Linked DNA regions of Homo sapiens. The main gene of each other region encodes a partner of the protein of the gene in region 2 in a complex. Each region holds a gene or a part of one and is shown on either strand. Other genes may lie near its edges.

Region 1 (4,405 bases), on a different chromosome or scaffold from region 2:
GGTGTTGGCATCTGGTGAGGGCCTTCTTGCCGCATCATAACATGGCAAAGGGCAAGAGAGCATGCATGAGAGCAAGAGAAAATTGGGCCAAACTCCCCCTTTTTATCTGGAACCCACTCAGTGATGGCATTAAATGGAGACTCAAAAGGTGGAGGGGGGCCGGGAGCCGTGGCTCATGCCTGTAATCCCAGCAGTTTGGGAGGCTGGGGTGGGCAGATCACCTGAGGTCAGGAGTTTGAGACCAGCCTGGCCAACATGGCGAAACCCCGTCTCTACTAAAAATACAAAAATTAGCCAGGCGTGGTGGCAGGCGCCTGTAATCCCGGCTACTCAGGAAGCTGAGGCAGGAGAATCACTTGAACCCAGGAGGCGGAGGTTGCAGTGAGCTGAGATCGTGCCATTGCACTCCAGCCTGGGCAACAAGAACGAGACTCCTTCTCAAAATATATATATATTATATATATATAAAGGTGGAGGAGATGGGAGGGGGTGAAGGATGAAAAATTACTTAATGGGTATGATGTACATTATTTGGCTGATGGATGCTCTAAGAACCCTGACTTCAGCACTATACAATCTGTGCATGTAACAAAAGCACTTGTTTATTTTATTTATTTATTTATTATTTTTTTGAGATGGAGTTTCGCTCTTATCATCCAGGCTGGAGTGCAGTGGTGCAATCTCGGATCACTGCAGCCTCCACCTCCTGGGTTCAAGCAATTCTCCTCCCTCAGCCTCCCGAGTAGCTGGGATTACAGGCATCCGCCACCATGCCCAGCTAATTTTTTTGTAATTTTAGTAGAGACGGGTTTTCGCCATGTTGGCCAGGCTGGTCTCAAACTCCTGACCTCAGGTGATGTGTCTGTCTCGGCCTCCCAAAGTGCTGGGATTATAGGCATGAGCTACCGCGCCTGGCTACAAAAGCACTTGTTACCCCATAAACTTATACAATTTCTTTAAAAAGCAGCCGCGATCTCTTGAGGAGGGCAGAGCCTTTGTGACCTAATCACCTCTGAAAGGCCCTGCCTGTCAACACTGTTGCATCAGGGATTAAATTTATCTTTTGAGATGGAGTTTCACTCTTGTTGCCTGGGCTGGAGTGCAATGGTGCAATCTCAGCACACTGCAGCCTCCGCCTCCCGGGTTCAAGGAATTCTCCTGCCTCAGCCTTCCAAGTAGCTGGGATTACAGGCATCCACCACCACGCCCAGCTAATTTTGTATTTTTTTAGTAGAGCTGGGGTTTCACTGTGTTAGCCAGGCTGGTCTCAAACTCCTGACCTCAAGTGATCCACCCGCCTTGGCCTCCCAAAGTGCTGGGATTACAGGTGTGAGCCACTGCACTCAGCCGGGATAAAGGCTCCACCTGTGAACACTGTTGCATTAGGGATTACATTTCTGACACATGAACTTTGAGGGACAAAAAACATAGCAGAGAACACAGCCAGAGAGGGGCTTGGCAAGAAGCACTGGTGACTGGTGACAGAAAATAGGAACTTGCACTACTGTGTCCCTCACCTTCTGATTGTTCTGCCTCAGCTTCCACTCATCTGCCTCCCAGATGGGCCCGCCACTCTGTCCACACTGCTTCTGCCACCTCACCATTGCAAACCAGTGGGGGTGGGGGCACAGGGTGTGTTCAGTGATGAGGTCAGGAGTAGCCAGGTGCCAAGTGCCTTGCAGGCTGTGGTTGCGAGTTTGGGTTTATTCTTGGTGTGATGGGAGGCGAAGGAAGGGTTTTAAGGACATTGTATTTGGGGGTGGGAGTGGCTTATACTTCATGAAAGAGCGCTCTGCTGGGAAAGGTGGTCAGGAGCCGTAGCCCAGAGGCCAGATGAAGCCTTCTGCAGTGGTTCGGACTAGGGATAGTGGCTGGCCCGTGTTTGAGGATGCAGGGCAGTGGGTCAGCAGATAGAGTTAGTAGCCCCAGGGTCATGAGGGTTCTGGGAACCTCACCTCCACCCTCACCCCCAGATTGCCAAGGACATGGAACGCTGGGCCCGCAGTCTCAACAAACAAAAAGAAAACTTCAAAAATAGCTTCCAGCCTATCAGCTCCCTGCGAGATGACGAGAGGCGGGAGTCAGCCACTGCAGATGCTGGCTATGCCATCCTCGAGAAGAAGGTGTGTTGGGGCCACCCCCCTGCACCCTGCCCCACAATCTTGTCCTTCCTTTGGGCCCTCTGTGGAGTCCCTGAATTTCTGTGTCCCTCCACCCCAGGGAGCACTAGCCGAGAGACAGCACACCAGCATGGATCTCCCGAAATTGGCCAGTGACGACCGCCCAGTGAGTGCCCAAGGCAGAGAGGGGCGGGGGCTCTGATCTGGCCAGGCCTGACCGCCCACCCTCACCCTCTACAGAGCCCTCCGCGAGGACTGGTGGCAGCCTACAGCGGGGAGAGTGACAGTGAGGAGGAGCAGGAGCGTGGGGGCCCTGAGCGGGAGGAGAAGCTCACCGACTGGCAGAAGCTGGCCTGTCTGCTCTGCCGACGCCAGTTCCCCAGCAAAGAGGCGCTCATCCGGCACCAGCAGCTCTCAGGGCTCCACAAGGTAACAGCGGATGGTTGGCAGGGCATGCTGGGGCCTGGCCCACTGAGGCTCATCCTCTTCACTTCTCATCCTGTCCCTCTTGCAGCAAAACCTTGAGATTCACCGGCGAGCCCACTTGTCAGAAAACGAGCTAGAAGCACTAGAGAAGAATGACATGGAGGTGAGGTGTGACCTGACCCTGGGCTCCCTCCCCTGTGTCCCTTCCAAGTCCCCATCACCTCAGGCAGCTGGAGTTCAATTTCTCACGTGTTAACCCCGTGAGCCTTCTTCCCCATTTTCCTATCCTGGCTGCTTGTGCCTGTGATGGCCTGACCCTCAGGACCTGAGCCTCATTAGCCAGATGGCATGCCCTGTGGGACCCCACTCCCCATGCCTGTGTTGCCTGAGAAAAGAGACCAGCTCCCCAACATTCACATACACATACAAACTTTCAGCAAATGAAGTACCGGGACCGTGCAGCTGAACGCAGAGAAAAGTATGGCATCCCCGAGCCGCCAGAGCCCAAGAGGAGGAAGTACGGCGGCATATCCACAGCCTCTGTGTGAGTGGCTGGGCCAGGTGAGGGGGTCTGGAGCCCGGGGCCGGGGCCGGCAGGCCGACCACTCATGCTGTGCACCGCCCCTGCAGAGACTTCGAGCAGCCTACTCGGGACGGGCTGGGCAGTGACAACATTGGCAGTCGGATGCTGCAGGCCATGGGCTGGAAAGAGGGCAGCGGCCTGGGCCGCAAGAAGCAGGGCATTGTAACGCCTATCGAGGTGAGTCTCAGGCAGTCCTGTCCCATCCCCCAGCACCCCTCACAGCATCCCCCACCAGCCTGACAGAGCCTGCCTCCCTCACACAGGCCCAAACACGGGTGCGGGGCTCCGGCCTGGGTGCACGGGGCAGCTCCTACGGGGTCACCTCAACCGAGTCCTACAAGGAGACACTGCACAAGACAATGGTGACCCGCTTCAACGAGGCCCAGTGAGCAGCTTCAAGAGCAACTTCTCCACATGTTGGGTGTCCATCCTGGGGCAGGGAAGGACAGAGTGTTGGATGGCTGGGACGGGGCCTTGCTCTTGTCGGCCAGCCCACTCCCCAGCCAGAGAGGGCTTGACCAAATCAAATTGAGGTGGTGACTTTTGTTGGAAAATTGGGCTGGGATCACGTCCTGTTTTGTAATAAAAGCTGAAAAGTCTGCATGTTGGCCTCTCCTCTTTCTCGTGCTCTAGCACAGTTGTATAGCCTATACAGACACGGGGACCCAAGCAGATGGACAGGGGACCTTATCAGGCCAAGGTGGATGGCAGTGGTGGCATTCAGTGTCTGGAACATAATGGCTACTAGAACATGGGGTTCTGACCTGTACCCCGACCCATAATATCCTGGTTATGGCCCCTCTCCCTTGTTGGTTCCAGCAGGTTATGTTGTACCAGGAAATCTAGCACCACCAGGCATGAAGCGCCCCCTGATCAGAGCTAGGACTGGGAACCCCCATCCCCTGTCCTTGCTGCCCCCTGGCTTTACTTAGCCTGCAGTCCCAAGGCTAAACTGCATTTTGCCATCCCTAGATCTGGAGACAATGCCCTCAGGCATCTCCAAGTAGAATACAAGAGGTACTCAGGTTCCAGTTGGCCCAGAGCCCTCAACAGGCTGATGACAGAGGGGTGGAGGTGGAGCTTGGCCTGCAAATCCAAGGCCAGGTCCCAGGGATGCCCTTTGAGAACCATTCAGGCCTACCTTCTCTGTTGTTACCACAGTGCCCCACCCCTCTAGTCACTGCAACCCATGATTCCCAAGTATGTGCTTGTGCTCTCGGCAGAGGTTCTGGGTACAGTGGACCGTGACGCTGGGGCTGCCCTCTTCCAAGCCTCA
Region 2 (4,078 bases):
AACACTGCCAAGCTTTCCTTCTTTCTAGGTTGCCTTTTTCTTGATTCAGCAAATGCTTGGTGCTGTAAACTATTTTCCTGGGTTCTGACAAAGTTGTTTCTGAATGTTTTTGCTTGATTTTTCAATGTTTCTGTGGAGGAAAAGGTCCTTGAAGCTACCTACTTGGCCATTTTTGCTGATGCTACTCTTGGTTACATTCTGAGGGCCCGACATTGTGTATGAAAATTGGTAGAGCTAATTTATGGTTCTGGATGTTAAAATTATCTGGAGATTTATTTTTGCTTCTGTGAGGCAGTGAAATTAGTTGCATCAGCATTCTCAGATAACTTAAACAGTCATGGAATGAGATGACTTAAAGCTGGACTTCAGGCTGTGTGAGGGCCTACTTCTCACTAACCTTGCACCTAGGATAGCCCCTTGGAGTGCAACTAAAAGCCTGCAAGTTTACTAGGCTCCTTCTTCTTTGGTGGTACCTGCATAGTTTATTTTGGGAATGTGAATGCAGCTTGCCTAACCCTCTAAATATACCCATTGCCAGATAAGAAATTATGGAGCAAGCAGGTTAATGTAGAAACCACATTTATTAACCATGGATTTACTGAGGGCAGTTTATTAGGTATTATCCATCGCTTATGCTGACATCTGATTTTGCAGAGAAATTATAGCCATTATTTTATTAAGATAATTCTACGAGATCAATTTAGTTTCTTGAAGTAGCATATATTCAATTCTTCAATAGGGTTTGGTTTAATTTAGCTATCAAAGTCAGATGTCTCTAAACTTTACACACTAAACTCATCGTGAGCAGAAAATTTATTCTTTGTACATATTCCTTCTGTTTTGGTTCTTCAAGCTGAAACATCTCAACTTCCAGAAATATGGTTGCCAGATCAAAAATACCAGAGTCCTAAGGGTTAAGATTTGAATCGAGAAAAAGATACATGTACACATTGTATTATATACAAACAAGCAACAACAAAAAGTTTCATCATGTAAACAAAAGAATATAAATTATAGACATAATTGGAAGTTTCAAACAGTCCTTAAATCATTGTGAGCTTCTCTAAAAGGCACAGGTCTTGGAGTGTGGGCACAGAGCCATTAGTCAGATGTCTGGGTGGTCTCCCATAATAGCAATGTATACTCTTAAGTGGGCTTTTTGTGAACTCTGTCAGGGTGAATGAGTTAGGCCTCTTAAAGGAATGAAATGCTTTCACATTTGGGGCAACAAGTGAAAAATACTGAAAGGAGGGATACAACTAGGGTTAGATTTATTGTTGACAGTGATTTTAGAAATAACCACTAAAAAGGTGTTAAAAGATTTCTAGATAAAATTCTGACTACTGAAAATAAGAAAGGATACCTTTTGTAGCTCTACAAATGGTTTGGTGAAAAATAAAAAGGGAGAAAGTGAGCCGAGGAGAAAGCGAAATAGGGAAGTCTAGGGAGGATGCAAGAAAATACACAAGTCATAGCAAGAAAAAAAACATGAGATGGTCCTTTCTAAGGACAGATGTTGGTGATATTTACCTATGTAAGCTCAAGCTGAGAAGAGTACAGTTCTTATATATTCATTACTTAATAATATACAAGAAAAATACTTTTCATTTGTTATAAAAGAACTACTTTATATGAAAACTAGAAATACGTATTTACATTGCAAATCCCAAATGAAACCCAATTTAATACAAAGTGAACTATAGGGATGACAGAAAAATGGGTAGATATCAAAATTCAACTGAATTTACAGTACTGCCTTATATCTTTTTTAAATTTTGTTTTTGAGACCGAGTCTTGCTCTGTTGCCCAGGCTGGAGTGTAGTGGTGTACCTTTGGCTCACTGCAACCCCGCTTCCTGGGTTCAAGTGATTCTCGTGCCTCAGCCTCCCCAGTAGCTGGGATTACAGGAGTGTGCCACCACGCCCGGCTAATTTTTAACAGAGACGAGGTTTTGCCACGTTGGCCAGGCTGGTCTCAAACTCCTGGGCTCAAGCAATCCACCCGCCTCAGCCTCCCAAAGTGCTGGGATTACAGGCATGAGCCACCGCGCCCGGCTGATATATATATTCTTTTAAAATCTATACACAAGGCTCAAGTTCTGGGGTTTCAGGTTTTATTTTTAAGTTTTCTTTAAAAATAAAATTGCCAACCCCCAAGTGAATTAAAGGTTGATCTGGGCTCGCAGAGGTAATCTGCTCTTTGTAACCAAGTGCTCTGTAGTTTCTTCCACTTTAGACCTCTCCAGTGTGTTAATGCCTCTGTTTTCTTTGTCTTTTCCATGTGATTTTTTATGCTGTGGATTTAAGGCGGGAAAATTAAGTCAATACAAAGTAACATTAGATACACATTAACTACACTCTATTTTCAAAGTTCTCTGGGTTATAGGCAAAAAAACTTAAGTGTAGAAAACCAAAAAAGGTTCAGCACAAGTTTGAGCCAACAATTTGGCAAGTAGCGCCAAATGCCTTCTTTATTTGATCACTAATGGAAGGAGTAGAGTGAAAGAAATATTAATTTTCTGTGTTATTTTCTAAGACATAGTTATAGATTTTACTCCAGGGTAGTGGTTCTCATCAGGGAGTGATTCTGCTGCCACAGGGGACATTTGGCAATGCTGAGAGACTTTTTTGGTGTTACAATCAGGGAGTGCTACTGGCTTTGAGTGAGTATTCACATAGTACACTGTTTTTCTTGTGTACCAACATAGTACAGTCCACAGGAAAGCCCATCACAACAAAGAATTATCCAGTTTAAAATGCCAATAGCACTGCTGTCAAGAAACCCTGCTCTAAGGAAACAAAGATTTGCTGTCATGCAGAAAAGCCAATTCTGTTTTAAGCAGAGAAACTGGTATATGGGCCACCTTAAAAACACTTTTACTTGTTTTTTAAAATTGTATTTTATTTTATTTGTAAAACCTATTTCATATTCCTCATTTGGAAGTTCTATTTCATTGGAATCCTACTTACCCATACAGAACATTAATGGACTGGTGACATTCATTGTACACTCAGTCATCAATGCTGAGACAAATTGTAAACCAACTTTTAAAGTTTTAAACGCAGAGAAAATCCCCACATCACACTGCTACTAGGGAAAAGATCATTTCTGGACTTCAGCTGAAGGTCTAAAACCCCATCCCAAACCCTTTCTGGTACTGTAGGGACTTCCTTGCCATAGCTGAATCACTAAGCCTAATTCAAAATGCCACAGATAATAATAATAAAACGATTTCTGACCAGGGATTAAGTAGTCACCAGGTTCTCTTATCCTTCCCCCTTTCCTAACTTTATAAGATAGAAGAAAAGGATGAAAACTGAAAGAAACATATTTATAGTTCTCTAATAGTAAGGAATAAAGCAAAAGGTGGCAAGAATTTGGGAATAAAATTGCCCAGAGGAAGACAGGGAGGAATTTATGAGAATCTGAGTTGGAACTTTGTTAACTGTTGAAAGCAGGGATGGAGAATCTTTAGACCTTAAGGGAAGGAGCTGTAGATCTATTAAAAAACAGTTACAGGCCGAGCGCGGTGGCTCACGCTTGTAATCCCAGCACTTTGGGAGGCCGAGGCGGGCGGATCACCTGAGGTCGGGAGTTCAAGATTAGCCTGACCAACATGGAGAAACCCCTTCTCTACTAAAAATACAATATTAGCCAGGTGTGGTGGTGCATGCCTGTAATCCCAGCTACTCGGGAGGATGAGGCAAGAGAATCGCTAGAACCCGGGAGGCGGAGATTGTGGTGAGCCAAGATCAGGCAATTGCACTCTGGCCTGGGCAACAAGAGCAAAACTCCGTCTCAAAAACAAAAAAACAAAACAAGACATACACACAAAAAAGGTACAAGCAGCCAGGCGCAGTGGTTCATGCCTGTAATCCTAGCATTTTGGGAGGCTGAGGTAGGAGGGCTGCTTGAGGCCAAGAGTTCAAGACCAGTCTGGCCAACATAGCAAGACCCTCTCTCTATATATATTTAAAAAAAAAAAAAAAAAAAAAAGGTACAAGCATATGCATCTCAGAAGTAGAACTTCAACTGTAAATGTAGATACCAATGTCCTACGTAAGGAAATTTTTCCTTC

What was found.
Region 1: KIF11 (region 2) and RBM10 share a complex: the UniProt entries of both Homo sapiens proteins name them as parts of the large chromatin remodeling complex.

What each region holds. Positions count from the first base shown.
Region 1 is NC_000023.11:47,183,082-47,187,486, forward strand, and holds the end of RBM10 (RNA-binding protein 10), read left to right. Parts: intron 1-1,973; coding exon 1,974-2,123; intron 2,124-2,220; coding exon 2,221-2,286; intron 2,287-2,360; coding exon 2,361-2,549; intron 2,550-2,634; coding exon 2,635-2,709; intron 2,710-2,983; coding exon 2,984-3,090; intron 3,091-3,176; coding exon 3,177-3,306; intron 3,307-3,392; coding exon 3,393-3,518; 3' UTR 3,519-3,732; downstream 3,733-4,405. UniProt on the Homo sapiens protein: Binds to ssRNA containing the consensus sequence 5'-AGGUAA-3'. May be involved in post-transcriptional processing, most probably in mRNA splicing. Binds to RNA homopolymers, with a preference for poly(G) and poly(U) and little for poly(A).
Region 2 is NC_000010.11:92,651,880-92,655,957, reverse strand, and holds the end of KIF11 (kinesin-like protein KIF11), read right to left. Parts: intron 2,294-4,078; coding exon 2,162-2,293; 3' UTR 563-2,161; downstream 1-562. UniProt on the Homo sapiens protein: Motor protein required for establishing a bipolar spindle and thus contributing to chromosome congression during mitosis. Required in non-mitotic cells for transport of secretory proteins from the Golgi complex to the cell surface.